7 linked regions of the Homo sapiens genome follow. The protein of the gene in region 4 purifies or fractionates together with the protein of the main gene of each other region. This does not show direct contact. Each region holds a gene or a part of one and is shown on either strand. Other genes may lie near its edges. The genes, in order: RFC1, ENAH, TMEM260, SLC24A5, LIN28B, NSUN2 and NACA.

Region 1 (3,926 bases), on a different chromosome or scaffold from region 4:
GTATTTTTTTTTTTTTTAGACAGAATCTCACTCTGTTACCCAGCCTGGAGTGCAGTGGCGCAATCTCAGCTCACTGCAACCTCCACCTCCTGGGTTCAAGATTCTCATGGAGAAGCATGAGCCACTGTGCCCCACCTTCAGTCTTTTTTGTCATGGGCTCTATTAAGAATGTTATGAAAAATATGGAACTTATCCACAGAAAAATGCACGTACTTAGATTTACATGTATATACATAAATACTTTGCAAACAGTTGCAGGGGGCTCCCAGGGTCTCTTTAGGCTTACAGAGTTTAAAAGAATTGTTTGGGACTTAGATTTTTAAAAACTCCATCTACTCCTTTCATATAGGTGAAAGCAGCCTTCACAAGAGCTTACAATAAGGAAGCCCACCTTACTCCATACTCACTTCAAGCTATAAAGGCATCTAGACACAGCACAAGCCCATCCCTGGATTCGGAATACAATGAAGAATTAAATGAAGATGACTCTCAATCTGATGAGAAAGACCAAGATGCTATAGAAACTGATGCCATGATCAAGGTAGTATTTTAAGCCACAGACAGGAGAACCTCAAAATAGATGATCTTTCCTTGCCTGGTGAATAATAGGGCCTTTTCAGCACATAGCAGAATAACTTGAAAATACTTCTTAAGTTTTTTTGTTCATCATGGTTGAGGGTGGAGAAGGTAGAGATTTCATTTTTATAAAGTTTCTTATGGTAGTCGAAGAGCCAAACAGCAAGAAAACAGGCCATGATATTGACGGCCATATGTTCTGTTAGAAAAAGTACCATTTTTATTTATCTAGCCATTGGTGTATGCTTTCAAGAAAAATGTTTGTAACAAAACAGTTTCTTCTGTTGCTTATGTTTTGCTATAGCCACTAAACTGCTTTGTAGAAGTTTCTTAGAGCAAAACATTCTTGTCTTTTGATGGGAAATATGAAAACCAATTGTGGTATCAGCCTGCTGTGTACAGCTGGCTGAGCCAAGGAACCTCATCTGATCCTCCTCTGTCCTTCGCTGGGTGTGGGTGCTTCTTGCCCTTCATTTCTGTTTTCTGTATGCAGGAGTAGGAATAGTGGCCTTCTTCACTGTGGCTCCCATGTCGACCCTAACAGGTGGTCTTCCTCTCTCCCTCTCTTCTGCTTTCACAAAATGACTGTTTACACCTCTAATCTGAAACTGAAAGAAGAGGAAATTCTTCATCTAAACATTACCCTATTTGTCAATTACCTCTTGCTTATTTTGTCTTTCCTAAGTATACCTCTGTTCTAAATCCAAGAAACTGTCTTACATGGGGAACGGATCCTAGTTCTAAATTCTAAACTAAAAGTTTTTACTGCCAGCTTTTAAAGGCTGTAAGTGGCGCAGTTGTTGCTGTAAGCGCTTCATGGGTTGCAGTAGTTCAAGATCTCGATGTTTGCAGCCTCTCTTCTTTTTTAATTAAGTTGCAGGTAAAGATTAGATTTGTTATAGAGATGAACTTATTTCATTTACTCATAAACACAGCTATTAACTATTTTGTTATCTTCCCCCTAACAGAAAAAGACAAAATCTTCAAAGCCTTCAAAACCAGAAAAAGATAAGGAGCCCAGAAAAGGAAAAGGAAAAAGTTCGAAGAAATGAAACCATTTTTCACTAGCGACAGCCACTTTTTACTCTCCCTCCTGACCAGTCCAGCTGGTCTAGAGAAAGCCTTGTTTTTTCCCAGAGCAACCATGTTTTAGCATAATGGGATGACCTGGTGTCCCATTATAAATAAAGGGTGGTATGGCTAGAAGGGTATGAGCAGTAGGCTTATGTACACCTCTTATAGAGGTTGATAGGACTGCTTGGGTCCTCCACTGTCCTCTGTCAATCTAGTTAGACGTGCTTCTGAATGACTGTAGAATTGGAACTAGAAACTACACCTGGGCTTTGGAGTCAGATTTTAGTTAACAATAATGAGCCTGGGAGCAGTAGTACTAAGGCGTCTTTTGTAGGCTTAAGAATTTATCCTAATGGCCTTTATAGGACCAATGCTGATTTTTTTTAAAGGCAGTTCCTATTATGTGGTGAAATTTTGTAAATAAATGATTATACAAAACAGTCACCACCTAGAACTGGGTATTCTTTGTACATTGTCAGATATCTTTCAAAGTATAAATTAGGAATAAAAATGTTCCACATGATATGTGTACAAATTCTTTTTAAGATTGTCATCTTGTACAGCAAAATATTATGTTGGTATATTACTTCCTTATTAATTTGCAAATGATTGGATTAAAAAAGCTCACTGTATTCCTTACTAACCTGTTGTGTGAAACATAACATTGGCAGTCGAGGAGTCAGAACTCGGATTCCCAGCCTCACTCCCTCTGTGTGTGTTGACCACGTCTCTGCTGTGAATAGGATTTCATGCAGTGGTCTGTTATGGGGCTTTGCAGCGTGGGGGGCTGCAGAAGATTCTCAGACATTCTTATCCTTCTGGAGTCTCAACCCATCAGGTTCAGACCAGTAGGAACCAGGCTGGGTCAGGCTCTTAATTTCACTATGGTGGGGGACAAAATGAACACTGGCTTTTGTTCACTTTGCCCCTGAGAGATCTAGTCCTGTCCTGTGATGGCTTCCACAAACCCTGTTGGAAGTTTGGGTTATTCCTATAACTGTATGTGTTGAGTGGCCGTGAGGCTATGGACCTAGCCTGGAATTTAGATGTCTAGCTATTTTTTAATCTTGTTGGTAAATGCTCAGAGGTCTGTGCTACCTCTGTGAGGTATATACTAAAATGAATGTAAAATAAGGATCGTATTCCCTGCTTTAAGGAACTGGTAGTCTTGTTTGGGTGATGAGACAAAGTTCTTGAGACATTTAAACTGTATTTACCAGTGTGAAAAATGTCATTTATGGAGATTAATTCATTATGGAAATAAAACATTGCCTAAGCCCTTGCCTGCTGAGTCACGACCCTGTCTTTGTTAAAGTCCATCTTGAAATTCTTATGCTTCAGGAAAGGTTTTCTCACCAGTAGGGTGAGGCTGGCTTTCCTATTCATGTTCTTCCATTTCTATGCCTTTTGGATATGCAAGTCACGTCTCCCTAGGTCTTCTGCAGCCCCCAGGAGAGAGACTTGAATCTCCATGCAGCCAGGATGCGGCATAGTGTCCTTCACTTGTTCATTATGATTTTGTTTGTAATTTTAAATGTTTTAAACCCAAGATTGGGATAATATGTGTGTAAAATTAATAGCATTTCTTTTAGAATTAGAAATTGTAAATATGCCCTTTATGAGGATGGCATAGGTCTGATTCCTCTTTGAAGCCCTCGTGACCATGAGGTGAATGAGTGAGATTCATGGTAGGAGGCAGTTGGTGGTTCTGCAGCAGTTTGGATGTGAATCTGAATGGTCTGTATTGGGGTTGAGTCTTCATTGGAGCCACCGATGATGTGGCCTTTTGGAGCCACTTGATGGCACATGCCATCTTTGCAGCATAAAACTGTATACTTACTCTTTTCGAGATCCATTGAGTCACGGCCATTTTGTTACTTACACACCATTCAGCTTTAGCCTTCATCTTGTTAAATGTTGGCAGTTTGTAGCACCACCATGATTTGATCTCTTAAAGTTACTGATGGGGTAGATTATTTGTACTAGGATGAGTAGCTTCCTAAACAAGCTCCAGTATGAGTATGCTCATGGTGAAGGTCTAAGGCCTGTAACTCCTAAGAATTATTTGCCCACTCTCACAGTCCCAGGTGCCTGTGGTTCTTATTCCTACAGCCTTACAGTATACCTCCAGGCATATTAGAGGAAGCAGGGGACTGTGGGTAGGTTTTATGATGATAATAACTTTGTACCACTTAGTAAGGCCAAGGCCTCTGGCCTGTTCTCTGGCCGGCCACTGGGAGGGAAGGACAGGTCCTGAAGCTGGAGGCATCATGCAG
Region 2 (4,222 bases), on a different chromosome or scaffold from region 4:
TACGATATATGTATATGCACTATGAAGAGTTAATATCCTCATTATTATAAATCATTAGAAGAAAAACTACACATCTCATTGGGAAAACAGAAAAAGCACATGAACAGACATCCACACAAAAATAAAGCTGTCCAATAAACAAACAAAGAGACCCTACAGGTAATCAAAGAAATACAAATTAAACCAATGAGGTAACACCTTTTACCTATCACATTGGCAAAGATTAAAAGACCGATAATGGCCTGAGCTGGCCAGAATGTGGGGTAACTAGAAATCTCATCTACTCTTGCTTATCTGGTAACGTGTATCAAAAACTGATACAACTCCCTTTAGTCATTTTGTTTATTATTCACTCAAATACTTATGCATACTCACAGAGGCCTGTGCTGGGAACTTGGAATGCAGAGCCAGGTCACGCAAGACCTTAATAATTTTGGTTTTATGACAAATTTGGGTTTTAGTCTAAGATGCCGCTGAAGGCTTTACATGGGAAATAACAATATCTGATTTCCACTTTAAGAGTATTCTGAGTGATGCATGAAGAACAGGGGACATGAATGGAAATGAGGAAACACTAATAGTTCAGGTAAGAGATAACAGTGGCCTGGACTTGAGGCAGTGAGATGGACAGAAGCAAGTGAAGGTGACCTGGTAGGACAATGATAGACTGGATACAGAAAGGTAAAGAAACAAAAAATAAAAAAAAAAACAAAACACAGCACTACTTCTTGATTTTACTTCTAGGAATGTATCCTAAAACAGTATCAGATATGTACACAAAGACATATAACCAAAGATGTTCACAGCAGTGTTTTTTATAATAACAAAAATAATGGAACAAATCTAAAAGTCCATCTTTAAGATTTAAGTAGACAAAGTCATCCATCCAAAGCAATGGAATATTATGCAGTCACTTAAAGTTATGTAGCTATATAGTTAGGAACAAGAATTACTGGCTGGACACAGCAGCTCATGCCTGTAATCCGAGTGCTTTGGGAGGCTGAAGTGGGAGGATGACTTGAGGCCAGGAGTTCAAGACCAGCCTGGGCAACATAGCGAGACCTTGTCTCTGCACAAAAATCTTAACAATTAGAGGGTGTGGTGGCGCACATCTGTAGTCTCAGCTACTCAGGAGGCTGAGATGGGAGGATCGCTTGAGCCCAGGAGTTCGAGGCTGCAGTAAGCTATGATTGCACCACTGCACTCCAGCCTGGGTGACAGTTTAAGACCCTATTTAAAAAATAAAAATAATAAAATGTAAAAAGTATAGATATTATATATATGGAAAGGGACAAGCTACAAAATACACAATACAAATATAGTATAATTCCATTTTTAAATAGTATAATCTTACTTTTATATATAATCATATGCACACGCACAATGATCTGCAATGCTGCAAATGCACTACAAAAAGTTTAGAAATCTACACATTAAAATATTAAAATACTAGATGGCTTGGATTTAACATTTCATAAATAAATGTTTTATACTTTCCATACCTTCTAAAATCTGTTCAAAATCTGTACTACTTTACAATGGAAGGAAAAAAGTAATTTAAAAAAATACTGACCAGACATATGGACAACAGTAATTGATTTATTTTTCTAAAAATAATTCTAAAAAAATTGTGCAAAGACCACAATTAAGTAGACTGTAAGTAAAAGTTTTAAATGAAAACTTAAGATACATAAATCTTAAATTGTTAAAAACTGAACGGTCACAATTTTGCTTGCAATATCAGTCTAACATGAGAATTTGGGGGAGGAGGAGAAAGACTGCAGAACAAAGCAGATATTCAAATAACCAGTATATAATAATTATTAAGACTGCATAAAAAGATCCCTTCACTGAACTGTAAAAGGAGCAATTTGGACTCCCTTGAGATTTGACCTCAAGAGCTATTCATTTTATTTTACTTAAGTTCTTGGTTCTTCATAAAGCTCCCCCGCTGCCAAGTTGCAAATGTAACAGATACCAAAAAGGACAGAAGACTGAGGACCTCTAAGGCACAGTTAAAGGTAGTCATTTTGATTTCACATCATCAGATGTATTCTTACCAAGACCAGATGTTCTATAAGGCCTTTACCACTGGAAAAGGGCTCAGTTTATTTAAAAATATCATGATTACCTCATTCCCCAAAGACAAAACTTTTGGTATTTGAGACTACTGTAAACAAACCCCAGAAAATCACCACCCAGATTTAAGTTTTCTGAAGATTCTGATGGATTTGCTTCATCACATTTTACTGGTGACTTTAGTCATCCTTACTTACAACAGGCCTACCAAAGAGATGGCTGGCTGTCTCCTTAGCACGAAGATACAGCTCCAAAATTTGTTCAGGCCTTTCAAAGCCACCACTACCAAGGTTTCCACCTCAGCATTCCCACGTGCTTGTTTCCCTACAGAGAAATGTCCAGTGGTTCTATCTTCAATCTCTCTTCTTTAAATAGCACGAAGATGTCAATTCAAAATATTAATCCAAAGTAATAAAAATGTCAGAAACAACTCACGTAAAAAGCAAATGAGATCTTCTGGTGTTATTATATAGATCTGTCTATTCTGGGCATTTCATATAAATGGAATCATGGCATATATCGCCTTTTGTGTCTGGCTTATTTCACTTAGCATAATGCTTCCATCTACGCTGTGGCATGTATCAGAATTCCATTCCTTTTGATGGCCAAATATTATTCTGTTGTATGGACATACCACATTTTGATGATCTATTCATGAAATCAGACACACCTGGGTTATTTCTGCTTTTTGGCTGTTATGAATAACGATACTATAGACATTTGTGTACAAGTTTTTCTGTGGACAAATGTTTTCATTTCTAGGAAAGGAATTGCTGGGTCATACGATAACTCTATGTTTAACTTTTGAGGAACTGCCAAACTGTTTTCTAAAGCAGCTGCACCATCTTACATGGTTTTTCACATTCTTAACATAAACTTAAGAGATGTCAGACTTTCATAAAAGTGGGGGATTTACTCTTATCAAGCTCATTTTGTGTGCCAAGTGTTATGCCAGAATTTTATTTAATTTTCTCAACAGCTCTATAATTCACAAAGTATATTCGATCCCAAAAAATGTTTATAACCCACTCAAAAATAAATTATTTAGTAAATGTCAAACTAGAGTCAAACCCAGAGTTAACTTCAAAGCCTGTCCTCTTTACCCTACACCATTCAATCTCTACACTTAGATATACATACATTGCCTCATACCCAAAGTAGTCTTTGGAAAAGTTGCCTGTTAATAAAACTTACTTTAATCATTGTAAAATAGAAGGTTCCCAGTGTAAAGAGATTTCTAGAAAATTTAACGGATATCTTGTATAAATCAATCAACCCCCCTAATTTATCTTCTTTAGTAAACAACTTCTGGTTACTTAAAACAAAACTTATCTAAAGTTCACCTAAATATTAAACAAATTATTTTCTTCCAAAGTTGTATGCACTGACAAAAAAAAAAAATGTAGTTATCTTCTGCTATAGACTGAACTGTGTTCCCCTAAAATTTATATGTTAATACCCTAACCCTCAATGTGACTCTATTTGGAAAAAGGGCTTTTAGGAGGTAACTAATGTTAAATTAAGTTATAAGCACAGGGCCCTAATTCAATAGGATTAATGGCCTTATGAAATGAGGAGGAGAGAGAAATCCCCCCTCATCTCCCCGACCCCAGGATTCCCATACCCACCCTACCATGTGAGGACACAGAGAGAAGGATATCTTCTGCAAGCCAGGAAGAGAACCCTCACCAAAACCCATCCATACTGGCAACCTGATCTCTGACTTCCAGCCTCCAGAACCTTAAAATAAATGTCTAGGCCGGGCGCTGTGGCTCCCACCTGTAATCCCACGAGGTCAGGAGATCAAGACCATCCTGGCTAACACAGTGAAACCCCATCTCAACTAAAAAATACAAAAAAATTAGCCAGGCGTGGTGGCAGGCGCCTGTGGTCCCACCTGCTCAGGAGGCTGAGGCAGGAGAATGGTGTGAACCCGGGAGGCAGAGCTTGCAGTAACCTGAGATCGAGCCGCTGCAATCCAGCCTGGGCGACACAGTGAGACTGTCTCAAAAAAATTAATAAATAAAAATAAAAAATAATTTTCTGTTGTTTAAGCCACCCAGTCTATGGTATTTTGTTATGGCAGCCCACACTAATACTTCAAGAGTATCATACACTACCCAGTGATTGGTATTTGAAGCAC
Region 3 (4,222 bases), on a different chromosome or scaffold from region 4:
GATTTTATTATGACTATCATCAGTCACATCAGTACCTTCTTCCAATTTACCTCCCGCATTTGACTCCCCAGAAGGACCTTCCCCCATTCTTATACCTAGAGCAGGGGTCCCCATACTGGGCCGCACAGCAGGGGCCAGCATTACTGCTGTGCTCTGCCTCCTGTCAGATCAGTGGCAGCATTAGATTTTCACAGGAGTGTGAACCTATTGTGAACTGCACATGTGAGAGATCTAAGCTGCATGCTCCTTAAGAGAATCTAATGCCTGATGATCTCAGGTGGAACAGTTTCATCCCGAGACCATTCCCCACCCCCACCCCCAACCCCCAGTCTGTGGAAATACTGTCCTTCACAAAACCGGTCCCTGGTGTAAAAAAGGTTGGGGACCACTGACCTAGAGAACGTGTATTCAACTTTCAGAACCACTGTAAATATCACTTCCTCTGATGCCCTCCTCTGTCTCCATAGCCAGAATGGCATGATCCTCTAGTACTTTGTACTCACCTCTATGAGAGCCTGTTCCTCACCAGACTGTGAGCTCCTAGAAAAAAGGCACTGTATTTTTTCATCTCTGTGTATCTGCACCTAGCACACTGCCTGGCATAGAACGGTTCTCAAATTTATTATTATTATTTTGAGACAGTCTCACTCTGTCACCCAGGCTGGAGTACAGTGGCATGATCTCAGCCCACTGCAAGCTCCGCCATCTGGGTTCATTCTCCTACCTAAGCCTCCCAAGTAGCTGAGATTGCAGGCACATGACACTACACCAGAATAATTTTTGTATTTTTGATAGACACGGGGTTTCACCATGTTGGCCAGGCTGGTGTCGAACTCCTGGCCTCAAGTGCTCCACCCGCCTTGGCCTCCCAAAGTTCTGGGATTACAGACGTGAGCCACCACACCTGGCCAGTTCTCAAATCATGTTTGCTGAAATTGAAATGCCTTTGATGGCCAGACTAGACAACCTAGACAAAATAGCCATTATTTTATTCATTAAAAAAATCAAGTATGCTCATCTATAATGAATAAGATATAATCCCTGCCCTGGAGAAGCTCAATCATGTAATAATCTAGGCCTCAAAGTTAAAAACTCTTTTGGCATTTCAAATTATCTGAATTTATTAGTAGCCCTATATTAATTACATATCCTTACAAGTTTACACATTCTTTTGATTTAAATAATTTACTTATATTAGAAAAAATCATTTTACTTAATTCTATACTTAACACATACTTAACTCTATACTTTGATATGTATTCATTCCCTCTTTTTAAAGAAGAGACTCCCATTAACACCACCAAAGCTTTGTTATGTTCGGATATCATCATTTGAGAAATTGTGCTTATGTTTTACTTGTCTTATGTAAGACATTACCCAGCAAATGACAAATTAATTTTAATCTAAGTCTAAACTGTAAATACTCAAAAAATACTTACTGAATTAGGCTTTATTACCCAATAGTTCTGGTTCTGGAGGATATTAATATTAATTACATACCCACTGTGTGCTATGGACTTTACTGTTCCTCATTTGGTTCTCAAAATAACCTTGCTATGTGAGAATAACTGTATCAGACACTGTTGATTGCCCACTCAACAGTGAATACCTTCTTCTTTTTCACTAATGCAATCTTCATTTTGATCAGGTAGCTCAGGCTGCAATGTTCTCAGTCTAGTCATTCTCCTTTGCTAATAAGCAGTTTAGGTGTGAGTATATGACTCAGTATTGGTCAGTGGGGCCTGAGTGGAGGTCTGCTGGGGGGCTTCTGGGGCACATGTTATTTCCAATAAATAGAGAGAGGGAGATACCCCAGAAGAAGCACTGTGCTTTGTTTTAGGTTGTGATGTTTGGAACTGGGCATGCATCCTGTGACTGGGAGGGAAAAGTCAAGAGAATGGCAGAAAAACTGCCTCAGAAACTGACGTCCCTGAACTGCTCATATTATCAATCCTAACATCACCTATCTCCAGACTGCGTCTCATGTGAGGCTAAAAACTCAGTCATTTAAGTCAGGTATTCTGTTTCTTGCATTCAAATGCACCCTAACTTACATAATGATGACTTACATTTCATAAATAAGGGAACAGAAGCTCTGAGAGGAAAAATCATTAGCCCCATGTCACATATCCAGGAAGTGACAGAATGAGGACTTGAGTTTAGGTCTAATTCACTTTCTAATCCATGCTTCTCAACTACAGGAGCTGACATTCTAAACAGTGTTTAAAATCATAGTGTGGAACCATGTTATTAACAAATAACATAGCTTTTGTCAGAATCTAGACTGAAGTTCAAATTAATCAATCGGCATCCATGATATAAATGCAACTGCTTATAAAAATGTAAAATTGTATATTTACAAATCTGTTTATAAAGTTTTCTCCAAAAATTATAATTATTCATTAATTCAACAAAGTGCATTAAGTACTATGCCTAATAATTTGTTCAATTGAATTCATCATATTATTCTTTTAAGATTAAGAATTTCTCTTTTCCTAATGACTGCTCTAAAAACACCAGAGACAGGTTTCTTCCCTTTTATGTATCTATGGCTTAAATAATAAATCTTAGTTTAAATAGTTCTTCAATGAAAAAAAAAGTTTTCATAGCCCTCAAAATTTTCACAAGTCCTCTCTTAATGTATTTTTGTCACAGCATTAAGAAAGTTTATATAAAAATTCTATAGCATAATTATGGTTAATAATTTCTATTTTGAGTGAAATGTTTACTTACCTACAGTATGATTTATTTCATATTCAATATAATTTATTTTAATCCCTGGACCAATGGGCAAGGTAAATTTGAATGGTTGAGTTAGCTGAATATAAAATAACAATTTTTTTTTTTTTTTTTTTTTTTGAGACGGAGTCTCGCCCTGTTGCCCAGGCTGGAGTGCAGTGACACGATCTCGGCTCACTGCAAACTCTGTCTCCCAGGTTCACACCATTCTCCTGCCTCAGCCTCCCGAGTAGCTGGGACTACAGGCGCGTGCCACCACACCCGGCTAATTTTTTGTATTTTTAGTAGAGACGGGGTTTCACCATGTTAGCCAGGATGGTCTCGATCTCCTGACCTCGTGATCCGCCAGCCTCAGCCTCCCAAAGTGCTGGGATTACAGGCGTGAGCCACTGCGCCCGGCCTGAATGTAAAATAACAATTTAAAAATAGATTTACCATACAACAAACACTTTTATGGTTTGTCACATGAACTAGAGACCTAAAACATTATGAATCTAACATGAAACACATTAATTCTTAAAACGTTCAGTTTAAATGTTTTTAAATGAGAAAGAAGCAACTAGTGTGACTTACACTATTAGTTAAAATAAAAAAAAGTATGCCCATATATATTCTACCTAACATGTAGAATGTCATATATATTCTACCTAACAGTGATCATGAAAACTGTACCCGTCCACCATTTTAAAAAAGATGTTTTTTCCAAAACATATGTTTTTAAATCATCGCTATATTCTAAGTATATTTTTCATATACTTACTTCCTGATCCACTAATGAAATGTCAGGCCTCAACCCCTCACAGTAATGCATGTAACGGAGAGAATTTCCTGGCAAATCTCCTCTGAGTAAGATAATTGCATCATGAGGCATAGAGGTGAGAAGGTTCTTTGCGAACTTATCAATCACATAGTTGGTCCTTTGGTCACAAACACTAAATAAAAGGATCCAAAAAAATTAAAATAGCAACACTTTGCTACAGTTTTAATAAGACTAGGCTTATTTTCTATGCCATTCTTTTCCCATCATACAATCAACATTTAGTGTTTCAATACATTCTAAAATAATATGTATATTTGAAGAGAGAATACTATCACCTGATAAGCAGCAGCTAATTGTGCAATTGAAAAAAAATCAGTCTACTGCTTACTTCTGGAGTTTATAATCATTTCCAGAAAAAGGGAATCAGTACACAAGAATAGGTCCTTTTTTCCCCCTAAGTGCAATCCAATTTTATTTTTAGAAAGTAAGATTTCTGATTCCACTTGGAGTTTAAGGCAATTTTATGTTCATTCCATTTACTCAAAGGAACTTTCAGAAATGCAAAAGGAAATCTGCCCATTTCTGACTTGAATTTGTATGGCATTTGTATGATTTTCTTGCATGCAGAGGTTGATCCTTTCCACTTCTCCCCTGAATCACAGGCCTCCTGTGTCCCTCTCTGCCTTTGGAGATCAAGAAATTGCTAGGGAATGAGACCAATGA
Region 4 (4,222 bases):
AAACAATAAAAGATGAAGTAAAATGGTATAGATGCTAATGTAAATGAAATAAAAGGAACTTTAAACAGAATATTTTTTAATTTTAATTTTTATTTATTTATTTATTTTGAGATGGAGTCTTGCTCTGTTGCCCAGGCTGGAGGGCAGTGGCATGATCTCAGCTGACTGCAAACTCTGCCTCCCGGGTTTAAGCAATTCTCCTGCCTCAGCCTCCCGAGGAGCTGGGATTACAGGCCAGGTGCCTGCCACCACGACTGGCTAATATTTGTATTTTTGTAGAAATGGGGTTTTACCATGTTGGCCAGGCTGGTCTCGAACTCCTGGGCTCAGGTAATCCACCCACCTTGGACTCCCAAAGCACTGGGATTACAGGTGTAAGCCACTGCTCCTGGCCTAAACAGAATATTCCAGAGATATTTAAGGTATACTTTAAAGTTGTCACATGGCTTATTAGATAAAATAACTAGTTTAATAAGCTTACTTCCTACCTTGTCAAATAGACCTTACTTTTATTTACCTTAAATTTGGTGTTCAAGTTCTAGCAGATGCACCGTAGATTTGGTTATTTGCTCCAAAAATACTTAAATAGGCTTTGGTATTCCCCATCTCCACTTTCATCTTTCCTGAGTAAAGGATTCTAACCTCTGTAGTCTGTTCTTATGTAACAATGAACATTCAGTGAATGTTTTCTATGTGCTAGGTACTTGTGTAAGCAGTTCACTTGTGTTTCTTCGTGCACTTGTCACACAGCACTATGAACTGAAAGTTGTAATCACCCTGTTTCACAGCTGAGATAACAGAGGCAGAGGGAAGTTAGGAACTTTGCCCAAGGTCACAGTGCTAGCAAATGGCAGAGCCGGGATTTGAACCTGGGCTATCTGGCTCCAGGGTGGGCACTTTCAATTGTCTCTCTATAAGAGTGTGGCACTAGAGCATATGACGGCTGTGTCCTTCCCCTCCAGCTGTCCGGGGATTCTCAGCATTTGTCATAGACCATTCAGCAACTATATCAATATATAGAGAGAAAAAAATTGGAAAAAGCCCCAAGCAAACAATACCAGATAGGACTACAAAGTGATGTAACTAAATTCACAAACTAAGCAAGGGAATCTTAGACACAGGTTTCTAAGTCAGGCTTACATGAATGATCAGAGACGACAAAGGCTCCCTCCTTTTCCTTAGTCATTTGGATTCCTCTCTCACTGTGTCTCTGTCTCTCTTCCTGTCTCTCATACACACCCCTCAGGGTATCCATCCGGGTAACATTCTAGAGTAGCACAACTGGTTAGGATGAGGAAGCTCTCCTTAGTTTATTCCTCACCCCATTACCTCTAGCTCCTTTAGCTCTAACTTGGGCTTGGATAATGCTCCTCTTCTGATCACATCTTTAACTCTTTTCCCAGAATCTCCATTCTGTTTCCCAGCCCAGAAGCCAAGGCTTTCCTCCAAACGTGAAATGCCCTGGACAACTAGAGGGTGATATATTTGTGTCCCCTCTACAACACCAATTAATTTCATTTCAGCCCTCTGTGTTCAGAGAATTATTAGCTTCTTTTCCTGTAGAACCAAATGGACAGAAAAAGAAGATAGGATTACAGGAAGGGGGCATAGCAACAGCATTTTCTTTTATTGGCTCCATACAGTTAAGATGGTGGTAAAGTGTCTGAGGTTGCCTCGTAGAGATAGGTGCTTTTCCAGCTTTTCCAGTGTTCGAGGGTAGAGGAGAGGGTGTGTGACTTTTATGATCATGAGCAGAGCAAGGAGAAGGAAAAAAAATCCTTGCTGGAAGCCTCTGGTGGAGGCAGCTCTAGGAGACCAAGACCAACATACATAGGTCCAAAAGAGAAAGAGCACTGGTTTGACCGAGCGGGGGCCCTGCCAGAGCACCAGCAAGAGGCTCTGCCCTCTTCCACTTCCAGCTCATCGCTGCACGGAGATGACAATCCTGAGCCTCTTCTAGTCTTCACCTGGCTAAAGATCCTGCTGTTGGCCAAATGAGCCACTGTGGTGATTTGAGGAGTGAGTGGGGCTGGGGTGGGACAGGGGCCTGCCAATCCTTCCATTGTATTCTAGGTTGGAACTCAGTATACATACCCCACAAGACATTATAGCCTCATCTATGATGATGAAGTTCCACTGTACTACATTATGATCTCATGATCTTGGACAAAATGTTTAGGCCTGGGAGCTTATGGATAAGTGTCTATAGCATTGATTTACAATCACCTATAGGTTGCCAAAGGTCCAAAATGATTTTTGTAAATAATTCAATGTATTCTCTTTATTTTGTAATATACTTCCTCCATAGTAACTGTGGGTATTTGATATTTTTTTGTCAAAATTTTCAGTGCTCTCGAGAGGAAAATTTCTTGTAAGATGGTTCAAATAGAACAGTTCTGAAACAACTATATTCTAGCAACGAATCTCAAACAAGGATGTGTAAAGTTTTATCATGTAGCAGTTGAGATCATGCTTGAGTTTTGGCATTAGAGAGATCAGGACTTTCTCTGTGTGGCTATGTGGTCATGAGAAATTACCTACCCTCCCAGCCTTGGCTTCCTCATCAGTAAAACCAAAACATTAGTCCCTATTTTGTAAGGTTTTTGGGAAGACTAAGTGAAACCATATATATATATATAAAATCATATATATTATATAAACCATATATTATTATAAGATATATATCTTTCATCTATAATTTTATCATAAGTAACTGATAAAAAATAACACTGTAGTACATTGTGGAATACTTTAGTAAACTGTTTTGAGGGTTATGTTGATAACTATTAGTTGACAAAATGGGTGGAACTATTATGACTCAATGCTCATCAAGAAACTGGGGAAAGGCAAAGCACTTGCAGACTTTTGAAGCCCGTTTCTGCAGATGTGAAGAAATTTCAGGAAAATTGTTTTTTATTGCTGATGTCATAATTTGGATAAGACCATGCTAGAACTTGAAAAGAGAAGTGACAGAATTAATTTATAAGCATTTAAAAATGAATTGAGCTAGCACTATTTCTATCTCATTTTGTTGCCAGTATTTTCAATACTCAAGATGAGGGTCAATTTTTAACAGCTGAAGATTTGGCAGTGGCATGGATATTCATCAATCACACATCTGTAAGAACTACTGTATTTCAGGGCAGAGAGACTCACTTGAGAAATGCATGTTTGCTGATGATCTTTCAAAGTAATTTCACAAGGTGCACGTTGGAAGTCACTTAGACATATTAAGTCACTTAATGAACAATATTTTGAAGTCATAATCTAAATTTTAATGCAGTAGTGTCTTCTACAGGGCTAGAAAGGTTTTTTATTTATTTTTCACTTCTCCTAAGATAATTTTTATAATAAAATTCTTGATAGATTTATTTTTTCAGTCATGTCATTGTTCAGTTAAGTCATTAGAAATGGAAATTATTCCTTACAATTTAAATTTCTGTGTTTTATATGATTAACATTTTTAATTTTTCAATTTTTAGTTTTTTACATTTTTCTAATTAAAAGTGCAGTATTGGCATAAGAATGTACAAAAAGGTTATTAGAACAGAGTTGGGAGCATAGAGACAGATCTACATCTATATAAGAACTTAGTATATGAAAATTGATCAACTGTTGGAAAAAAGAACATTACATCCTATAGCAAGACAGATTCTTAGTGGAAAAAATAAATAAATTTTAAAAAATCCTGCATGTAGAATAAAATATGATGATTGTTGTGACCTATGGATAAAAATGCCTTTCTAGTTATAAAACCAAAAGGAGAACCATAAAGAAAAAGATTTACAAATTTACTTAAAATATTTAAACTTCAAACTTCAATGTGATAAACACAAAATGCAAAATCAAACAAACCATGAAAAAGCATATGATATGAAGTAATACTAGAAAAAGGGTTAATATCCTTATATATTTTTAAAGTCTTGAAAATCAATAAGAAAGAGACAGAATACCCCTGATATAATATGGGCAAAAAAACACAAAAGGAAAACCATAAAATAAAATAAACATATAAAATATTCACCCTCATGGATAATAAGATAAACACAAATTTTATAAAATAATGGGAGGTTAAAGCAACCAAGGATATTTCACATATTTTTCATGGTTTTCTGGAATGGATGCTTAAGGAGGTATAAGTAGGCACACCTTTTGTGGGATGCCTTTTGCAAATATATATCATAAGACTTAAAATATCCACATCTCTGCCTCTTAATCAGGA
Region 5 (4,222 bases), on a different chromosome or scaffold from region 4:
GCATTTAATAAAGTACTTAGCATGAATAATTTTATTTTTTATGTTGGACTATGGGAATATATAATAAAGTATGAGTATAGTTTTCTTTGTATGGTCTTTTGTGTGAGACTATGTCCTTATATTTCTTAAGCATATAGCTAAAAATGGACACACATGATATTTTTATGCTCACATCACAATGTAAAATTCATTCCAACTACAAAGGCAAACTGATGTGGAACAGTGTGGAGGGTGAACAAAGGGGACTAAAATCATGTATAGCTTGTATGGAGTATATAGTTGTGGTATAATTTGTGAGCTGCAAGGTAGCTGAACATTTCTATTTTGGTGTCAGTCCCTTGGGAAGGAAGGGGTTTCATAATGGAGAGTGATCTGTACTCTTAGTAAGAGTGATTGACACTGAATGATTAAATAGAAGAGAATATAAATACCACTCCTCCCCCTTTTAAGGCTAAGCACATAGACACTAAATGCAAATCTTTTCAATGTGGAAGAAAGTCTGGCCTAATGATAGCACATATCAGGAAAGCCAAGGGGGTGAATTAACTATGCAGATCAAAATGTAAGGAAACCAAAATTATATAGCATCCTTAAAAATAACTTTTATAGCCCAAATCTAATGGTAAATGCACAGATAGAGGGTAATTGAAGATCCCATTTGTGAAAGTAGAATACTGACATCAGGCTCCTGGTCAATGAGTGGGCAAAATGGTTCCCTGAATTGGATAACACAGTGCATACCACGGTGACTGATAAAATTGATGTGTCTGCAGGAGAGCCAGCCCTATTACTGAAGCCTTTAACCTATTTTCTGTCTCTTTGAAAATGAGCTCCTGAGTGGAAGTTATCCTCAAGGAAGTGAATTTAATTCAAAAGAAGATATTTTATAGATGGGCAACTTTAATTTAAGAATTCACTTATCTATTGTAGAGGAGAACTGTGTGGGAAAATATATTATTATAAGTAATGTGGTTATATTTTTCAAATATGTCATTTTTTAGTGTTATTTTGAGAACCTGAATTTTAAGCATTAGCAAGTAAACTTTATTATTTAATCTTACACTCTCTTAGAACATATGGCTGAAACAATATTGAATCTGCACTGTAATACTTTATTAAGATATGTAATTATACAATGAATAATTTAACTACAACATGTGATTTCTTGTTTTTTTTTCTCTTTTTGAAAATATGATTCAGTCTGTCCTAAGATAAATACTTGTTAATCATTGCAAAGAATAAAAGCCCATCTTATAAATTCATTATTCTAAAGTATATAAGGTAATATTGCTAACTGGAGAAGCAGGCAATAGTTACCCTAATTTTTGCCAATTAAAAAATTCACTGTTCAATTTATGCCAGGAGATAAAATACTAAATATCCTATATACACTGCTTAGTAGGTTGTTAGTACCTTAGTAGTTTGTCTATGAAATATAAGGTAGAATAAATTATTAAGTTTGATGTTCTCACACACATACAAATATGTCATCATAATTCACTTCTTGTTGTGAGTCTGGACTTAAGCCAATTTTCTCAGTTAACACTTTTTTTGTTGTTGTTGTTGGAGATGGAGTCTCACTCTGTCGCCAGGCTGGAGTGCAGTGGCGCAATCTCGGCTTACTGCAACCTCCGCCTCCCAGGTTCAAGCAGTTCTGCCTCAGCCTCCCGAGTAGCTTGGGACTACAAGCGCGCGCCATCATGCCCAGCTAATTTTTGTATTTTTAGTAGAGGCAGAGTTTCACCATGTTGGCCAGAATGGTCTGGATCTCCTGACCTCATAATCCGCCTGTCTCGGTCTCCCAAAGTGCTGGGATTACAAGCGTGAGCCACCGCCACCCAGCTAGTTAAAACATTTTGTTATTATTTTTTAAAAACATTATAACCTGGCTGGGTGCAGTGGCTCACGTCTGTAATCCCAGCACTTTGGGAGGAAGGGGCAGGCGGATCACTTGAGGTCAGGAGTTCAAGACCAGCCTGGCCAACATGGTGAAACCCTGTCTCTACCAAAAATACAAAAATTAGCCGGGCATGGTGGCACATGCCTGTAATCCTAGCTACTCCCGAGGCTGAGGCAGGAGAATCGCCCAAATCCGGGAGGCAGAGGTTGCAGTGAACCGAGATCACTGCACTCTGGCCTGGGCAACAGAGAGAGATTCCATCTCAAAAAATATATATATATAACCTGTTGTTCTTTGTGCTTCATAAATGAGATTTATGGAGTCATAAATGTATTTGGAAAATAAAATAGAAAGCTCTTAAAATATTTCATTTGGAGACAAGTCATTAAACAAATTCTGTATTTAAAATCAGATTTAACACCTTTGGTAAATATAAATTTTTCTTAGTTTCTTCCACTAATGGTTTTTTTGTTACTTTTAATATAAAATTTTAGAAGAAAATCTGATTGAACAAATATACCTCTGAAAAAATTTTCTTGCTTAGCTTTCCTTGCCAAGCTAAAAGCTGAACTTTCAAACATCTAATACAAAGCCATGTCCCCAGTGTGCATTCACATATTATGGACGGATTTCCATTTATTTTAACTTAAAAGAGATCACCCTAAAAGAAAGCTAATTTCTTACAAAAAAGAAAAGAAAGTTAACTTTTCTCATCATTGAACTAGCATGAACCTTTATTAATTCAATCTAAGTATTTAGAAGCTTTCTTTTTTTAGCACTGTTCTGATTCAGACATTTACTCTATTGCTCTAAAATTACTTGGTAATTTGCCAGATATCATCCTGACTTTCTGACTAGACTCTGACTTTCTTATATATCAAATTTCACTGCATTACTTAATTTTATACAAAGGAAAAAAATTTTTCCAGTTTAGCTGGTTTCTACAGTCAAAATAATTAACATTCAAAGAAGTGTTAAACTTTTAAATTTGGTCTAAAATTTTGCCAGTTTCTGAGTGAATTGCCACTTTGTATCATGCCAACAGCTGTATTTCTACACTCTTGTTTTTAAAACTGGCTTGTTGTTTTTTGTTGAATATTCGCTGCCCTCTAGTGGGCTTAATGGTTCTTTTAAAATGACCAGATAGTGTCAAATTTAAAGGAATCCTTTCTATATGGAAGTGATTAAATATTCTTACATGTTTTAATACTCTTGTTTTTCACTGTGTTTAGTTGTGTCTCACACAACTAAGTTTTTAACCTCACCAGAACATTTTGGTGATGATAGTCTTTGAACCAACAGTGTAACCAGTATAAACAATGATAAATGCTTTTAAGAAGGCACATTAAAATAAGCTTATCTCATTGGTAGTTTGTGTGTTTTCACATTTTAAAATGTGTTTTTGGATACATGCTGCCTACTTCTAAGATGTTTTCATCTTTTTTCCTTGTAGATGCTACAACTGTGGTGGCCTTGATCATCATGCTAAGGAATGTAGTCTACCTCCTCAGCCAAAGAAGTGCCATTACTGTCAGAGCATCATGCACATGGTGGCAAACTGCCCACATAAAAATGTTGCACAGCCACCCGCGAGTTCTCAGGGAAGACAGGAAGCAGAATCCCAGCCATGCACTTCAACTCTCCCTCGAGAAGTGGGAGGCGGGCATGGCTGTACATCACCACCGTTTCCTCAGGAGGCTAGGGCAGAGATCTCAGAACGGTCAGGCAGGTCACCTCAAGAAGCTTCCTCCACGAAGTCATCTATAGCACCAGAAGAGCAAAGCAAAAAGGGGCCTTCAGTTCAAAAAAGGAAAAAGACATAACAGGTCTTCTTCATATGTTCTTTCCTTTACCCGGTTGCAAAGTCTACCTCATGCAAGTATAGGGGAACAGTATTTCACAAGCAGTAGCTGACCTGGGATTTTAACTACTATTGGGGAACTGTGAATTTTTTAAACAGACAAATCACTCTAAGCAAATTACATTTGAGCAGGGTGTCATGTTTTATGTTAATTCAGAGAATAAGATACTATGTCTGTCAATATGTGCATGTGTGAGAGGGAGAGAGCCTGAGTCTGTGTGTGTACATGAGGATTTTTATATAGGAATGTAGACACATATATAAAGAGGCTTTGTCTTTATATATTTGTGTATAGATCAAAGCACACACCCTCTCTCATATAATTGGATATTTCCAAGAATTGAAAACCCATGTGAAGCATTATAGATAGTTTTAAATTTAACCCACTGGAGTTTTCTTGAAATACCACTTCTTTTATATTATATAAAACTAAAAACACGACTGTTACCTTTTGTGTGAAC
Region 6 (4,693 bases), on a different chromosome or scaffold from region 4:
AACTGGGATCACAGACAGGCGCCACCGCGCCCGGCTAAGGAAACCAAACCTAGGACCACTGAGTGGCTCTTTCCAGATCAGTTTCATCATGTTTTTTTCCATCACTCCCTTCCAGTCCTTTGTTTCCCGCCCTTTCCAGACGAATCCCTTCTGGTTTCCAAACTCCCGGGGCCGGGGGACTCGGGGAAGGGCACCCGTGCAGATGGGGGACGCCCCGGGGGATCTGGCAGGGAGAGGGCATCTGGGTGGGGGAGGCTTCGGGGAGAGGGCACCGGGCAGTGAGGGGAGGGTCGGAGAGGACGCCGGGCCGGGAGTAGGGTAGGGGGCCGGGGGCCGGGGACGTTACCGATGCCCGTAGTGGACGAGGAACATGGCCAGGAGGATGCAGTTGGGCGCGCTGCGGAGACGCGGGGCGGACTCGCTGGCGTACTGGTAGAGCGGCAGGGCCAGCGAGGGCAGCTCCTGCACCACCCAGGCGGCCCGCGCCGGCACTCGGAGCCTGTGGCTGGGCAGCGCGTGGCGGCCGTACACTGAGTTCGTCTGACGATTGCGCGCGAAGACCGCGCAGCCCACGGCGCACTGCAGGTAGGCGAGCGCGGCCAGCAGGCGCTCCTCCGCCACCCCCGTCGCCGTTGCCATCGCCAGGGCTGGGCAGCGTGCTCCATGCCCCAGAGGCCGCGGCGGGCAACATATAGGGCGGCGGCGCGGGGGCAGGAGGGGCGGCTACCGGAGGGGCGGCTACCGGAGTCCCGCACTGCCGGGACTCTGCAGAAAGGGTTCTCAAGTCAGGCTTCTCCGGGGTAGCCGGGGCTGTGGGTGCGGCCCCGGGGGCGGGGCGAGCACTTGCGCGGGGAGGGACCTGCAAGCGCCCCACCCACGCCGGGGCCGCAGTAACCCCGCGCCGCTCTGCGCACGCGCGGCTTCAGGCTGTCCGCGGAGCTCCTTGAGCCCGCGTGGGAAACCTGGGCGCTTCGCGCGGAGACGCCTTTGTGGCTGCTTCCTGGAGCATTTTTTTCCCCTTAGAGCTGTTCGCTGTTTTCCCTGTCACGCCGCTTTTCTGAAAGACGGGTTGTGCGCTTTGGGCTTATTCCTGGACGGTCCCCAAAGGTCCCCGAAAGGACCAGGCCCGGACACGTGGGGCCTTGGTTTCCGGCCGGAAGTCCCGGGAGGTGTAGGGCTAGAGTTCTGGCCGTGGCGGGCCGGTTTCTGCGTGCTGCGTGCGCGGCCGCGTGGGCTATGGGGCGGCGGTCGCGGGGTCGGCGGCTCCAGCAACAGCAGCGGCCGGAGGACGCGGAGGATGGCGCCGAGGGTGGTGGAAAGCGCGGCGAGGCGGTAGGAGCCGGGACCCGGCGGGCGGGCCAGGGGCTCCTCCTGGGCTTCCCGGACCCCGAGGCCTGCGAGGCGGCGGCGAGGGGGCGGCTCCTTGGGCCTCGGGGTAGACGTCTCTTTCCTTCCTCAGGGCTGGGAAGGAGGCTACCCCGAGATCGTCAAGGAGAACAAGCTGTTCGAGCACTACTACCAGGAGCTCAAGATCGTGCCCGAGGGCGAGTGGGGCCAGTTCATGGACGCTCTCAGGGAGCCGCTCCCGGCCACTTTAAGAATTACTGGTTACAAAAGGTAGGGAGGCAGTGCCTGATTTTTTGGGAGTTGGGGCCAGGATGCTGGAGGTTAAAGGCGACGGTGTTTTCTTCGACAAGTGTTACAGTGCCAGAGAACCGTGGCGTTTCAGCGGTTTGGATTCAGGAAGCATTGAGGTGGGGAGCACAGGGTCCAATGAAATGGTCACGGAGGTATTGCAGGCGCAAGGTTAGAAGACGAAATGAAAATGAGATCTGAGGAAGATTCGGCTCCTGGGGAATCTTCCAGGAGGGAAGCTGAGGGTCTTACCTTTTGGAACGTAAGAGAATTTATAGAGAATGCATAAAACCCCTTGGTTCTCCCCTCCTCCGCGCCCCCCCTCCATCTTTGTAGTTACATCTTTCTAAATGAGTCGCAAGTAAAACTTAACGGTAGGATATGCTTAGGAGAGAAGGAATGCAGTGTTGCTCTTAGGGCTCAAACAGTGTGGATTGCTTAAATTTTGAAGGCATACAGTGTAAAAGTAGTGACTAAAGAATGTTTACTCTCCATGCAAAAGTTGGTTTTAGTTTTAAAACACTTGCAGTCTTAAATTTAAGAAGATACAATGTATTAACTTAGTTTTTTAGATCAGTTTGAAACTTCCTTATTTTTCAATAGCCACGCAAAAGAGATTCTCCATTGCTTAAAGAACAAATATTTTAAGGAATTGGAGGACCTGGAGGTGGACGGTCAGAAAGTTGAAGTTCCACAGCCACTGAGTTGGTAGGTACCACAGTGCTTCATGCCGAATATTTATTTGGGATATTAATCTCTATCACTTGAATTATATTTCTTGGTACTGCATTTGCTGTTAAAGAGCTTGGGTATACTTTGCAAACATCCTAATGTTCTAGTACCTGGTGCTTTTATCAACATTATATTGCTACGCAAGTTTTCATGCGATTTGCGATTTGCAGCTTTATGAGTCACTGATTTCAGCCAGCTCTTCCTAGTACATCCAGCCTCTTCCTTTATGTCACCACTTCCGCCAGCTCCCTTTTACAGCCCTTGTTTTCTCACATCAAAACTGTTGCAGAGTGGCTGCTTTGCCTTCAGAAAAAGGACAGACTTAGCTTGACAACAGTCTCCTGGTAGGTAGTCTCTTAGTGTTTTCCATTACAGACAGGTTACCACTGTCTGCTGTCAGGTTGTCTCCTGGTACTTCGCAGTACAGACTGCACCAGCCAATGTAGCATTTCCGAGTCTCAGCACCCAAGCGTGCTACTACTCTGGGAGCTACCTCTTTCTTGACCTGTCCTGGAGGTGCCTTCTGGGTTACCTATTCCTCATGGCTCGGTTCTAGTCTCAGTTGTATGAAGGTGATCCCTTGTGCTGATAGCATCTTGTAAAGATGCTTGGAGAACTCCGGAGGCGCCAGTCCTTCAGTTAACTTACATAAGTGGGAAAGTCGTTATTATTAACTTTGAGGTATTGAGTTCTCAGAAAAGTAATGCACGAAAAGGTGAATTAAGCCGTTTTTTGTTTGTCTGTTTGTTTGTTTGGAGACGGAGTCTCACTCTGTCGCCCAGGCTGGAGAGCAGTGGCACCATCTTGGCTCACTGCAAGCTCCACCTCCCTGGTTCACGCCATTCTCTTGTCTCAGCCTCCCGAGTAGCTGGGACTACAGGTGCCCGCCACCACGCCCGGCCAATTTTTTTGTATTTTTAGTGGAGACGGGTTTTTACCTTGCTAGCCAGGATGGTCTCATCTCCTGACCTCATGATCCGCCCACCTCGGCCTCCCAAAGTGCTGGGATTACAGGCGTGAGCCACTGCGCCCTGCCAAATTAAGCGTTTTGCATCAACTTTTGAGGTTTTGACTATTCCAGTACGTAGTGTTATCTTTCCTTTTTGGATAACCTTTAGTGTTCGCAAATCAAGGTCAGATTTTCATTAATCATGGGGTACAGATTTGCTTGTTTTTCTTTCATTGGCTATTTGGATTTTCATTGTCCCTATCACAGATAAGCATATACATTCACAATGAATGCTGACTGGCCAAACATTAAGTCAGTATTCAACCAGTATCAAGACCGAATATCACCATCATGGAATGTGTTGCTGGGATATAGGAATAAATATGACCAACATCGTGAAACCCTATCTCTACTAAAAATACAAAAATTAGACAGGCATGGTGGCACACGCCTGTAATCCCAGACACTAGGGAGGCTGAGGCATGAGAATCGCTTGAACCCAGGAGGTGGAGGTTGCAGTAAGCCAAGATCATGCCACTGCACTCCAGCCTGGGCCACAGAGCGAGACCATGTCTCAAAAAGGGAAAAAAGAATAGATATGCCACATCTTAGATTTTTAAAAGCTTGAAGGGTACAGTATAGGAAAATGATACGGGTGCTACGTTGCTGTTAGTGGTCACTAATTGTCCACTGTAGTGAGATCAGTGGAAAAGGTAGATGTTTTTCAGCCTCTAGTTATGGCATTGCTGAGATGAGGTAACCTTCACGAGATCAAGCTTTTCTTCCTCCTGGTAACTAGGTTGTAGACTTTGCTCAAGTCGTTTGGTTTGAAGATTTGATTGACGACACTGATTGTGTTGTACTTGAAGTAGAGGTCTGATACTGTAGTAGTCCATTTTCACACTGTTATAAGGACATACCTGAGTAATGTATAGATAAAGGAAATAGGCTTAATTGACTCACATTTCCACATCGCCGGGGAGGCCTCAGGAAGCTTAAAATCATGGCGGAAGATCTCTCTGCACAGGGTGGCAGGAGAGAGAATGAGTGCTGAGCAAAGGAAGAAGCCCCTAATAAACCATCAGATCTCCCCCTGAGAACGAACTCACTGTTGTGAGAACAACATGAGGGAAACGGCCCGGGGATTTAATTATCTCCACCTCGTCCTGCCCTTGACACGTGGGGAATATTACAATTCAAGGTGAAATTGGGGTGGGAACACAGAGCCAAACCATCTAAAATATTTTAAGAAGACAGGATTACGATTCTCCTCGGGCATGTTTGTATTTTTAGCAGTGATGCATGTATGTGCTGCTTCACACAATCACCTGGAAACATTTGTTTCTAAAACCTTGTGTTTAGAAGCGCAGAGACGGG
Region 7 (4,222 bases), on a different chromosome or scaffold from region 4:
TGCAGCTGGGGGTGTGGATGCCCCTTTGGGGAATGGGGTAGCTGCTGGACTTCCTTTGGGGGAGGGAGGAGTCACAGCTGGGGGTGTGGGGGCCCCTTTGGGGGATGGAGTAGCTGGACCTCCTTTGGGGGAGGGAGGAGTTGCAGCTGGGGGTGTGGGGGCCCCTTTGGGGGATGGAGTAGCTGGACCTCCTTTTGGGGAGGGAGGAGTTGCAGCTGGGGGTGTGGGGGCCCATTTCGGGGATGGGGTAGCTGGGCCTCCTTTAGGGGAGGGAGGAGTTGCAGCTGGGGGTGTGGGGGCCCCTTTGGGGGATGGGGAAGCTGGGATTCCTTTAGGGGCTGGAGTTGCTCGGGCCTTTTTGGGGGAGGAAGAAGTCATGGATAGAGCAGGAGCCTGTTTGGGTGCTGGAGTAGCTGGACCCTCTTTGGGGAAGGGCAGATTCACCACTGAAGGAGTGGGGGTCTCTTTGGGGGGTAGTGTTACTCCTTTGGGAGACAGAGGAGTCACAGCTGAGGGAGTAGGGGCCCCTTTGGGGGATGGAGGAGTGGGAGAATGCGTCGTGGCTGGTGAGTCTTTAGAGCCTTGGAAAGAAAGACTATTCTCTGGAAGAAATGAAGCTTCAACTGGAGAAACAGGGGATGAGAGATTTCCAATAGGAGTATCAGGGCCAGCAGAACCCTTCTTGGTTGGAGGTCTTTTAGTCTGAGGAGACACACTAACCCCTAAAGGAGATGGGGAATCAGCTAGGTAAGTCAGAGTTCCTTTGGAAGATGCAGTAGCAGAAGCACCAGAGTCCTCAGTTGGGCACTCTTTGGGAGAGGAAGCAACAGGTGCCAATGCTGAAGTATGAGAAATACCATCAACCTTTTTTGTACCTGGAGGAGTCCCAGCTGGGGGAAGAGAGGGTGAGGGCACAGACTTTGGGATTTCAGGGGCCAGCACTAAGGTAGCCAGAGGAGCACAGGTATTCTGGGGGGATGGAGCCACAGGGCAATTTTCTGAAGCTGTAGGAACCAAGGGTAAAGTAGTAAGAGTACCTTCCTTAACTGGGTGGTTTTTAGGAGCTAAAGAGACAGTTCCTTCTAGAAAAGGGCTGGCTGTAGTTGTATAAGTTGAGGTACCTTTGGCAGTTGTGGGAGCCACCCCGGCAGGGTCAGCACTTTCCAAAGGAAATGCAGCCACTGTTGGGGTAATGAGAGAACTTTTGAGAAGCGGACCAGCAGAGTCTGGGCCTGCATAAGAATCTGTCTTGATTACAGAGGCCGAGGAGTTAACACCCAGAGGGGAGGTCATACTGCTGGCTGGCTTACCTATAGGGAGAGGCTCCCCAAGGCTTTTCTTTGCTAGGGTGGCTTCAGGAGAAAGAGGTATCTCTGGAGAAGAGGATGTACTTTGGAAAGAAGGGGAATTTTTAGGGGCTGCCTGGACTAACGGTAATACAGTAGGGTCTTTCTTGGTGGTGAGTCCTGCTTGGGCTGGAGAGAAAGGGGCTCCTTCAAGAGAGGCAGGTACAGTTTGGAGGTCTTTTTGTGTTGGAAATTTAACCAATACTGAACTGGGGAGATTTTTGAGGTCTTCAGGGTCTGGCAGAGGAGGAGAGACTGGTATCCTCAGAGTGGTTGCTACTTGAGTAGAAGGCTCTTTGGGAGCCACAGGTGCCATAACCAAGGCAGCAGGGGAAGTTGGTTCTATGTTACTTATGGGACCTGATGACATTGGAGGAGAAACACAAGTAGCTACCTCAAAGGTAGTAGTAGGTGCTGCAGCAATTGTACAGGGGTTAGTCACCACAAGTGGGGTGGTTCCAACAGAAGAAACGGGCATTTGGGCCACTAAAGGATAATGATAAGTGGCATTAGGAGAGCTTTTGAGAATGAGAGAGGTTGTAGGAGATAATGAAAAAGAGGTAGCTACATTTAAGGAGCCAGAAGGGCTGCAGGTTATGCTAGAGATGGTAGAGGGACCTTTGTCAACAGATGGAGCCACCACTGGAAAGGCAGCCACAGTAGCAGGAACTACCTCATTTCTGGAAGGAAGGGGAGGAATTACAGATCTCTGAGAAGGATAAGAGGCCCCTGTGGAAGAATGATCTACAGAAATGGTCTTCACTGTAGGGTCTGACAAAGCACTAGGACCTGTTTGACCTAAAAGTTGGACAGAACCAAAAGAACTCTGATGTAAAGGTGCAAGATGAGAGCCCAGAGAAATGGGAAAATCTGGGGGGGTGTTGGGACCCGCAGTCTTTTGAGAAGAGGTCACCACAGGAAGAGACTGAGTTGAAAGAGATAAGGCAGCAGGTGGACTAACAGGCCCCTTCAGGCTGAGGCTTCCTGGGTTTTGTGGAGAAATCAGAACTGAGGAAATGGTGGTATCTTTGACTTGAGGGGAAGCGATGGCTAGGGTAGTTGTGGGTGTTGTCTGAGGAAGGGAGGCCACTCCAGATTGAATAGAGGCCATGGGAGTCACACAGTGGTAAGGAACAGTACTGACTATACATGGAGGGCTGGGGGTGCCTTTTGGATTAGGGACTACCTCAGAGGGAACTTTATTAAGATTAGTCTTTGGTTCTGAGGGAGCAATGGGAGCTGACAGAGTTATCACTGACCCTGACTCAGCTACAGCCACTGAAGGAGGTGAAGTAAGAAGGTTAGGTGGAAAAGCAGAACTCTTCTGAACTGAGTGGGGAGCCAGGGCAACCAGAGCTAAGGGAGCTGAAGAGGAAGGGGTCCCTTTCAGAGTTGGAGCTATCATGGGAGAGGCTAGAGCTAAGGCAGCTGGGGAGATGGGAGGCCCTATTAGGTTTGGTAGGAAGGTTGGGGCTTCAGGGGCAGTTCCCAAAGGTAGGGCTGTTCCAGAGGATGACTGGGGAAAAGGAACTTCTAAAGGGGTCGAGGCAATAGTAGAGGGGGAAGGGAATGGGGAAGCCTGGTTAGCAGCTGAGAGAGGGCACTGTTGTGGGGCAGGAGAGCAAGGAGGGGGGAGGGTAGGTCCAGGCTGCCCTAAGGCAGCAGTGACACTCAAGGCTGAAGACATAGGTAGCACAGCTGGAGAAAGGCAAAAGGAGATAAAGAAAGGGGGAGGGGGAGGAGAAAAAAGGTGAGTTATGCAGCCCAACTTGGTACAACATGCCTCCTAGGAAACACTGGAGTTTAAAATCTGACAGTCTAAGTCACCACGCAGGATTAGATAAAGGTGACAGGCAACAACAACCTTCCCCAAACATTTTTCAGTGGTCAAGTGAGAAGACATTCCCCTCCTAATTTCTCACACTTCCCCAAGTTCTACCAAAGTAAACCAACTATTTTAGGGTGAGGAGAACAGTCTAAGAGCAGCCTATCTCTAAATGGGGAGCACAGACTCTTGGTAGGTTGAGAACAACATGCTTTCTATCCTTTCCCAGTTGTGCCCTCCCCTTACTTCTTGAAATGGACTGTATTCCCAAGTCTTTCTCACAGCCAACAGAATTCCCACGAGAAGAACAGCTGTGCTACTCTGTCCACCCAAATATCATGAACAGAAAAGATACTGAAAACTGGAACAAAGAAGTTAGTGAGCAGTGACGATGATGGGGAATCTGAACTGAATAAGAAAACACAGGCTTTTATACTTTCAGGCTTCCACTAGGCTAGGAAACATCTGACTCTGTTAGAATAGTTTTGGGAAGGAGGTGCACAGCACAATTCAGTTCTTCCTAAAGTTGAAACACTTCAGAATTTAATATCAAGTATTAAAGTCACTTAGCTTCTTTATACCTTACCAGTTTACTTACTCACAAAACCCAAACAAGAAAACCAACCACAAAAGGACTGTAATAGTCTCTATAAACCTTCCTAGGTGATGTTAATTCTTCAGACATCAATCCAAGATGAATTAGACATGAATTAGACCTCCAGGCAGAGAGCTTACTCACAAGGGTAGGGACTGTATTATGAAACTGTAACCTAACTTGTTAAACCAGATTGTGGTGCTATTTTGGAAGAAGAGAATTGGAGAGCCTGTAACAGTGGCTCATGCCTGTAATCCCAGCACTTCGGGATGCCTGGGAGGGCGGATCACGAGGTCAGGAGTTCCAGACCGACCTGACCAACATGGTGAAACCCCGTCTCTACTAAAAATACAAAAATTAGCTGGGCGTGGTGGTGTACACCTGTAATACCAGCTACTCAGGAGGCAGAGGCAGGAGAATGGCTTGAACCCAGGAGGTGGAGGTTGCAGTGAGCCA

The links.
Region 1: the proteins of SLC24A5 (region 4) and RFC1 purify together in Homo sapiens (affinity purification with mass spectrometry; one large-scale study listed by BioGRID and IntAct). This does not show direct contact.
Region 2: the proteins of SLC24A5 (region 4) and ENAH purify together in Homo sapiens (affinity purification with mass spectrometry; one large-scale study listed by BioGRID and IntAct). This does not show direct contact.
Region 3: the proteins of SLC24A5 (region 4) and TMEM260 purify together in Homo sapiens (affinity purification with mass spectrometry; one large-scale study listed by BioGRID and IntAct). This does not show direct contact.
Region 5: the proteins of SLC24A5 (region 4) and LIN28B purify together in Homo sapiens (affinity purification with mass spectrometry; one large-scale study listed by BioGRID and IntAct). This does not show direct contact.
Region 6: the proteins of SLC24A5 (region 4) and NSUN2 purify together in Homo sapiens (affinity purification with mass spectrometry; one large-scale study listed by BioGRID and IntAct). This does not show direct contact.
Region 7: the proteins of SLC24A5 (region 4) and NACA purify together in Homo sapiens (affinity purification with mass spectrometry; one large-scale study listed by BioGRID and IntAct). This does not show direct contact.

What each region holds. Positions count from the first base shown.
Region 1 is NC_000004.12:39,286,463-39,290,388, reverse strand, and holds the end of RFC1 (replication factor C subunit 1), read left to right. Parts: intron 1-349; coding exon 350-541; intron 542-1,544; coding exon 1,545-1,628; 3' UTR 1,629-2,933; downstream 2,934-3,926. UniProt on the Homo sapiens protein: Subunit of the replication factor C (RFC) complex which acts during elongation of primed DNA templates by DNA polymerases delta and epsilon, and is necessary for ATP-dependent loading of proliferating cell nuclear antigen (PCNA) onto primed DNA.
Region 2 is NC_000001.11:225,642,700-225,646,921, forward strand, and holds part of ENAH (protein enabled homolog), read right to left. Parts: intron 1-4,222. UniProt on the Homo sapiens protein: Ena/VASP proteins are actin-associated proteins involved in a range of processes dependent on cytoskeleton remodeling and cell polarity such as axon guidance and lamellipodial and filopodial dynamics in migrating cells.
Region 3 is NC_000014.9:56,620,980-56,625,201, reverse strand, and holds part of TMEM260 (protein O-mannosyl-transferase TMEM260 precursor), read right to left. Parts: intron 3,672-4,222; coding exon 3,500-3,671; intron 1-3,499. UniProt on the Homo sapiens protein: O-mannosyl-transferase that transfers mannosyl residues to the hydroxyl group of serine or threonine residues of proteins. Specifically glycosylates the IPT/TIG domain of target proteins, such as MET and MST1R/RON.
Region 4 is NC_000015.10:48,123,709-48,127,930, reverse strand, and holds part of SLC24A5 (sodium/potassium/calcium exchanger 5 precursor), read right to left. Parts: intron 709-4,222; exon of another isoform or gene 518-708; intron 1-517. UniProt on the Homo sapiens protein: Calcium, potassium:sodium antiporter that transports 1 Ca(2+) and 1 K(+) to the melanosome in exchange for 4 cytoplasmic Na(+). Involved in pigmentation, possibly by participating in ion transport in melanosomes.
Region 5 is NC_000006.12:105,075,061-105,079,282, forward strand, and holds part of LIN28B (protein lin-28 homolog B), read left to right. Parts: intron 1-3,353; coding exon 3,354-3,723; 3' UTR 3,724-4,222. UniProt on the Homo sapiens protein: Suppressor of microRNA (miRNA) biogenesis, including that of let-7 and possibly of miR107, miR-143 and miR-200c.
Region 6 is NC_000005.10:6,629,523-6,634,215, reverse strand, and holds the start of NSUN2 (RNA cytosine C(5)-methyltransferase NSUN2), read left to right. Parts: upstream 1-1,171; 5' UTR 1,172-1,236; coding exon 1,237-1,332; intron 1,333-1,459; coding exon 1,460-1,617; intron 1,618-2,238; coding exon 2,239-2,343; intron 2,344-4,693. Other genes in the region: SRD5A1 (3-oxo-5-alpha-steroid 4-dehydrogenase 1), read right to left, coding at 347-639. UniProt on the Homo sapiens protein: RNA cytosine C(5)-methyltransferase that methylates cytosine to 5-methylcytosine (m5C) in various RNAs, such as tRNAs, mRNAs and some long non-coding RNAs (lncRNAs).
Region 7 is NC_000012.12:56,718,416-56,722,637, forward strand, and holds part of NACA (nascent polypeptide-associated complex subunit alpha), read right to left. Parts: intron 3,045-4,222; coding exon 1-3,044. UniProt on the Homo sapiens protein: Cardiac- and muscle-specific transcription factor. May act to regulate the expression of genes involved in the development of myotubes.